Homo sapiens: one gene and its partner. The protein of the gene in region 1 purifies or fractionates together with the protein of each later gene. This does not show direct contact. Each region holds a gene or a part of one and is shown on either strand. Other genes may lie near its edges.

What was found.
Region 2: the proteins of MIOS (region 1) and CEP43 purify together in Homo sapiens (affinity purification with mass spectrometry, with the first as the bait; one large-scale study listed by BioGRID). This does not show direct contact.

Annotation. Positions count from the first base shown.
Region 1 is NC_000007.14:7,573,181-7,577,009, forward strand, and holds part of MIOS (GATOR2 complex protein MIOS), read left to right. Parts: coding exon 1-589; intron 590-917; coding exon 918-1,016; intron 1,017-3,829. UniProt on the Homo sapiens protein: As a component of the GATOR2 complex, functions as an activator of the amino acid-sensing branch of the mTORC1 signaling pathway. The GATOR2 complex indirectly activates mTORC1 through the inhibition of the GATOR1 subcomplex.
Region 2 is NC_000006.12:167,002,397-167,006,225, reverse strand, and holds part of CEP43 (centrosomal protein 43), read right to left. Parts: intron 3,034-3,829; coding exon 2,979-3,033; intron 2,504-2,978; coding exon 2,415-2,503; intron 1,963-2,414; coding exon 1,825-1,962; intron 1-1,824. UniProt on the Homo sapiens protein: Required for anchoring microtubules to the centrosomes. Required for ciliation.

The DNA of each region.
Region 1 (3,829 bases):
TTCCACGATCGTGTTGCTTCCTTCTATGAAGGTCAGGTTGCAATATGGGATCTTAGAAAATTTGAGAAGCCAGTTTTGACATTGACTGAGCAACCAAAACCCTTAACAAAAGTAGCATGGTGTCCCACTAGGACTGGTCTACTTGCCACTTTAACAAGGGATAGTAATATTATTAGATTGTATGATATGCAGCATACACCCACTCCCATTGGGGATGAAACTGAACCCACAATAATTGAAAGAAGTGTGCAACCTTGTGACAATTACATTGCTTCCTTTGCGTGGCATCCAACAAGTCAAAATCGAATGATAGTTGTAACTCCCAACCGAACAATGTCAGACTTCACTGTTTTTGAAAGGATATCTCTTGCCTGGAGCCCAATTACATCTTTAATGTGGGCTTGTGGTCGTCATTTATATGAATGTACGGAAGAAGAAAATGATAATTCTTTAGAAAAAGATATAGCAACGAAGATGCGTCTTCGGGCTTTATCAAGGTATGGACTTGATACAGAGCAGGTGTGGAGGAACCACATTTTAGCTGGAAATGAAGATCCACAGCTCAAGTCACTCTGGTATACTCTGCACTATATCCTTTTCATTGTGAATTTTGTGAGGTGAATCAGGTAGAAATGTTCTTGAAGTTTGCCAAAAGGTCAGTCTGTAAATATGCTCAATGTTTTATATACAAATACAAGTTACATAATACTAACATTATAAAGTAAAATTGTTCTAAACTTTCGAACTTGAAATACTGCTTTGTAGATTGTGTAGGAGGAAGAAAAGTGTATCTCTGCAATAGAGTCGAACCACCTTATTTACACTGATACTTATTATGAATTGGCTCCAAATCAAAATAAATTTAGCTTTGAAATATATTGTCATGCATCACTAGTATTTCCTATGCATTTAAATACTTATGAAGCAATACACAGAAGATATGGATCAGAAATCTCCAGGCAACAAAGGATCATTGGTTTATGCAGGAATTAAATCAATTGTAAAGTCATCGTTGGGTAAGAAAATTCTATTTCATTTTCTCCAATATGTTTATAACTTTTGTACTTTTATTTTGCCCCCTGTCATTTGGCAGAAATTATCTAGTTATTTCAGGATCATGTACATAATTTTTTTTGTTTTCTGATTGGATATTTCATTGTATTGTTGAGTTAAATGCATACTTGTATTTATATCCAAAACCCTTTTTGCAGGGAGTCTTAATTCTCTGAAGTGATGTTGATCTTCTTAAATCTATCCACACGTTTATTCAATGTTATTTTTTTGAAAACCCACTTTGAGAGGTTTTACACTAGACAATTTACAGATTACTGATTGTTAGTTCAGGTTTTATCGCAACATTTTGCTTCTTAAAAACTAAAAAGATCTCTAATTGAAGGAGATCCCTTTTTATTTTGCTCCTCAAATACTTTCATTGAGCCATCTAACAGCAAGGAGTATGATATGAAATATGGCCTAACGTGGAGGAATTATACCTGATATAGTCCTTGGTTAATTAGTGAATGAATTAATTAACGTGTGAGTTAATGTAGGATTGAAAATTGGTATGGTAAACTATTAAAGAATAAAAGTGACAAAAACCAAACTTTTTTTTTTTTCTGACTGCTTTAAACAGTTGTTCCTATTCTTTTACTGGAATTGAATAATGGGTTATATTAGAATTGCAGGTTGAGTATACCTTATCCAAAATGGCTTGGGACCAAAAATGTTTCAGATACTTTCAGATTTTGAAATATTTGCGTTATATACTTAGAGATTGACCATCCCTATTCTGAAATCCAAAATGCTCCGATGAGCATTTCCTTTGAATATCATCTCAGCACTTAGAAAGTTTCAGATTTTGAAGCCTTTTGGACTTCAGTTTTCAGATTTGGGATGCTCACCCTGTATCTCTGTGATCTAGGATTCGTTCTCTAACTTTTGGTAAGTCAAATTTGGGCCCAAGTCAAGCTGTTAGAAAAGTAGTTAACATTATTTAGTCAAAGAGCAGTAATAGAAGTAGTAAATCCAATTTGATTTTTTACGGAGCTTGTATCAGTACCATACAAACAAAATACAAAATAATAAAATATTTTAGAGTAGGTTAAGTGTTTTAATTAAACTGTTACATTATAGTGTTTTTTTAACGTCTTTCAAATTACTTTGGTTCACTTTACTGAAAGATGCAGTAGACTACTTACTGATCAGTTTGATTTTATTGTTTTTGTATTAGCCCTCCACCAAAAAAAGTAACCTTTATTATAAATAGTAAAATGAATAAGTTTAGTTAGAAGCTGCTGTTTTTATTAACATAGGTAAAAGGGCACACATACTGTTTTACTCCCACAAATGAACCTGGTACCATGGTTCAAGATTTTAGAGCCATTGCCTATTGCTACAAAGAATTAAACACCAAGTTTATAGAATTTATAGTGTTTTAGCTATATAGTAGATCAGGCCACACTGCACTCAATTATTTAGAGGTTGGTTATTGTGTTTTTTGTATTTTGATATATTTTAAGGAAAAGCCAGCATCTGAGGAAAAGCAAAAGGGGAAAATGTAATATGTTTATGTTTCTGGTGCACTAGAGACAAACTGAGTATCCCACCCCTGTGTCAAAATAGTCTCTACCCAGACTAAAGAAACACTACTGTTGGAAAGATTTCCTCATTCATCATTCTCTCATTGCTAGGTTTTCAGCTTTTTTTTTTTTGTTTGGTATAGATATTTTTGTTTCTACTACCCAAAGGTGAAAAGTAGAGAAATACTGTCAAATATGCCACTCTTAGATTTCAGTCTTCTGTTTTATTTGGCCATACCTTTTCCTCTAATTGTATCTCTAATAATCAACACATGGTAAGTCAACACATTGAGCCATCTTGTCCACAGTAACCTAATACACAAGTTTATTAGAGCATACAGCTAAATTTTAATTTTGGTAACAAATAGTATATATATAAGTGCTTGCTATGAATTAGTTGCTTTTCCCATGTTACTTTAATTTTTACAACTACAATATGAAGTAAGCTCATTCATTCAGCAAGTATTTATTACCTACATGCATGCTATATGCCAGGAGTTATCCTAGGAACTAGAGACATAACTCTCAAGAAGATACATAAATCTCTTCCCTCATGGAGATTGAGCAGGATCAATGTCATCCCTGCTCTTGAGGAGTTTATATTCTAGTTTAGAATATAGACAAGTAAGCTGGCAGTTATAACATAGGGAAGAACAGACAGTTAATTACAGGAAGGACTCCTAATCTGGTTGCAGGGATTAGAGGTTTCTCAGAGGAGGTACAGTTAAAGACAAGGTCCAGACAGGGAGCAGCATGTGCAGTGGACCCAGAGGGTAGAGAGCATAGCACATTATTATGGCTGAAACAGAGCATGAGAGAGGAAGTGAGGAAAGAATGGAGGCTAGAAAGGTAAGCAGTGGGCTAACTCAAGAAAGACTTAGAAATCATGTTAAGAATTTAGGGAGATTCATCTTGTAAGACGGGGAAACAGATGGATTTGTGACAGATTTGTGTTTTAAAAGGATCAAGATTGATAGTAGGGATATCAGATAGAAGCCTGCTGCAAGGAGGCAAGACGTGATGCTATCCTTACCAAGGTTAGTAGCAGAGGAGCTAGAGAAATGTGGATACATTAGAGAATAGGAGAAAATTTAATGATTAATTAGATAAAGGGGTGGAGAAGATGGAAAAGTCAAAGGTAGCACACATATATTTAGTTTGGGAAACTAGTTAATTTTAAGTATGTTAATTAGGAATAACACAGGAAGAGTATTTGGGTTTATTTTGGAGCAAGTTGAAATCAAGATGCT
Region 2 (3,829 bases), on another chromosome or scaffold:
ATTTTCAATTCGCAGTTAATTGAATCCACTGATGCCTACTACAGTAACACACAGAGTCCTCCGTGCCAAGCACTGTGCTCAAAGCTTCACACATCTTGCTTCCTCAGACCCCCTCCAGACCTGTAGGCGCGATACTTCTGTGATCTCCATGTTGCAGATAAGGAACCTGGGCACACGGAGGCTGAGTGACTGCAGGCTCACAGAGCTAGAATGTAGCAGAGCTGGGGTTTCACCCAAGTAACCTGGTTCCAGAGTCCATGCTAGTGGTATGTTAAGGAAGAAAGATCAATCTAGACAGAAAAATATGCATAAACACCACTGCAATGAGGTGAGCCAAAGCACAACTACTAAACAGAAAAGAAAATGAAAGGGCAGTTAGAAAGAGAAGAGAGTTCTTCAGGGCCACAGAAGCCGAGAGGGGAAAGCCAATAAAGAGAGGTCATCATGACCTACAGACTGCTGGCCCCAGGAGACTGGGTTCTTTAGTTTGTTTTTGATTGCCCAGTACCCAGCACAGTATCTATCAAATAAGCGCACAATAAAAGCTTGCTGGATATTGATAAATGAAGGAATGAAATTATATGCACAAGCTGAAGTGACAACCTGCGCTCTGGGTGAGCCGCCTCACTCCCAGCCAGCCTGGGATCTGGCTATGCTCTCCTGCTCCCACGCTTGGCTGGCACCGTTCCAACTTCTCGGAAAGCCCTTCCCAATCCTCGCCCCACAACTGACATCCTACTCTCACTTTAAAATTGACTTCAATAAAATTTTGGCATGTGACAATCGCTTCCTCCTCTAAACTATTCATAATATGGTTGGAAATAATGTGTTAAATGACAATTCCTCCATAATCTTAAACTGTTATTTAAATGTTAATTTCCTTATTTGAGCACATTTTATCTTAAATAGCTCTGCGCTATTCAGAGACACAGAAGTTTCTTATATTTTATCTTATAGTACCCACAAAGTCTATTTACCATGCCTTACACATAATTAGTACTCAGGCAAGCTTTATCAATTTTCAAAAATTCTAATAGAAAACATCCTCTGAGACTCACCAAAGAAAATAACTGGAAACCTATACAGCCCTCCACATTCTTACCTATAAATTTCTGACTAAAAGCTCACATTTAATCAAATATCTGGAACAGTTACAGATGTTACCTGTATCTATAAAACAGAGTATCTTCATGTAAAATTAATGTATGAAAATAAAATTATATCATTAATCTCATTAGCACAATTTCTAAAAAAAGGTTAAGAGTATGAAAAGTACTACTGATCAAAAAAGTGTAAGTTTGAACTGTTTCTAAACAGCGTAAAGCAAAATCAACAGCTTAGTTTTAAGCCTAAAGAGGCCTTTAAGTCCAAAAATTTATTAACTATCCTATAAATCAGCCCTTTTATATTTAAATAAGATGTTTTAATAAAAATAATAGCAAGTTGAGTGCTTCTGTTGGCTTATGCAGAGAAGCCTCAGAACACCAAGGTAGGGCCTGGTAGAGCCCACTTCATACACAGTATGGAATGAATGGAGGATCAAGTGAGGCAACGAGGAGTTGGGATTTGTTCCAGACAGTTTAGCTCATGACCCAACACTCTTGAGGATCAAAAACCAGAACAGATATGCCACAGAATCACAGTCAGCACATTCCTAATTTTCATTAAAATTTGCATTGATACAATCTGAATGCATCTCATTTTGTTTTTAAGGAATATCTTCTAGTATGAAAACCTTAATTTACTATATATGCACTAATCTGCATGGCTAAACTAAGCAGCCAATAATTAAAATAGAAAAAGATAACACAGAATTCTACTTACTTCCCCAGTGGTTGGCCCTTTTTCTTTCTGTTGACAGCGCCTGATCACTTCTAATAATAAGGGTCCACCCACAGTACCTTCTGCTTCAATTATACCTAAATCTCGGGCTAAATTCTCTCGACCTTCGAGACCTTGCAGCTAGAAAAGAAGTTAAAATACAAGTGCACAAAAAAATAGCAGAAGTTATTCTCAAGGAGTAAAGAAGATATTTTCAGAGTTTAAAGACATCTTTAAACTCAAAGAGACTGTCTTACTAATGAATGAAATGTCTATTTTAAAAAATTATGCCTATTTCTTTTACAGAGCCTCTACCTTCAACGTTTCCATTAACAGGTGCACTCTAACATCGTATCAAAATTAACTCTATAGTAACACTTTTATTAGCAAGCTTTCAAGTAACACAAAGCAGCAACACTGGTGCCAGCTATCTGAAAGCTCATATGGCTTTTAAGAAAAACAGATAATCAACTACCAAAAATAATCTAAATGTAAAAAACTATCAGTTGTCAAATTCTATTAACTTTCAGCTTAATATTAACTCATTTGTATCAAAGGTTTCAAAAGATAGATGTAAAAATCATTATTCTTACTGTGCTAGTTTCAGGTTGAAAAACAGCCAAAGTAAAGTCAAGGTTAAAAAACTGAAGAAATTCTGCAACAAGACTAGCCACTAAACGACCTATAAAGATCAAGAAAAAGGTAAGTAAGCAAATCTTCAAAAACTGAATTTTTTAAATTAACATTATGAAATAGATACACTAAATTAATGGAAGAAAGGTTTCTAAATTTTTTAAGTTACAAATTTCCTCTTTGAATAATATGATTAAGTAATGAAAATCTCAATCTCCTGATTTTTTCACTGGGATCATCAGTCTGTAACTAACTGTAAGACAATCATCTCATAGATTTCAGTGTTTCGCTTTTTAATGGTTAATATTGGCTTTTTGTAGTAAAACTGGCTTTAAGCAACAACATCCCAAATCCAAAAATATGTAATAGCAACACGATTGTTGTACAATAAAATATTATTTTAAAATGAGGACCTATAACAATTGAAGACAAAAAAAAAGCCCTGAAATTCCTGATTTCTCCCAAATGGTATCAAGATTCAAAAATTCAGAGATAGATAAACAAGAACAAACTGAACATCTTACCGTCTTTGGTATTTAAAAACTTTTTCAGGCTCTCATTAACTAAAGGAGTTTTGTTCTGTTAAAAAAAAAAAAATTTAAGTGTCATGTGTTTACCCTAAAAACAACTACAAAATATAAAGTTTAACGTTTTCATTGATAAAATTATGGTTTTACAAAATCCATTCTACAACTGTTAATTACTACAGGACTTACTTTGTGCTATTTAGTAATTTCTCAAAGTTAATATAACAAAACCATATATGAAGATTTGTATTTTTAATTTTTAAATGTTTTATAAACTGCTTTTGAAGCTAGATATTTTCAAATACCTGTGTGAAATACAATTAAATGTCAACAACTGTTTATTATTTCAAATACATGAAGTTTGATAAAAGTTTTGTCATCTCAGGTATCTACCATTTATAGCATACTTACTATGAACAGGAATTTAATTATACACTTGTAATTCCCAGTTTATCCATGAAATGTGAGATGATCTTATGCGGCCCATAGGCCAACTTATTTTTGTAATTATACATTTATTTGAATAAGTATGGAAAAAATACTTCTAGACCATCAAGCCTGTGATTGTTGCTGAGAAGAGGCTACAGTAGGTAGCACATGGTAAGCTTCCTTAAGACCACATTAATTGCTGCTACAGTGGCAGCCTCATACACTGCTGATGGGAATGCAAAATGGCATAACGAGTTTGGACAGCAATTTGGTAGTGTTTCTTAAAAGTCACAAATATTCCTAGCATGTGACCTAGTCACTTCACCTCTACATATTTTCTCAAGAGAAATCACAGATCCAAGCAAAGACTTGTATGTGACTGTTCACAGAAACCTTATTTGTAATACTCAAAAACTGGA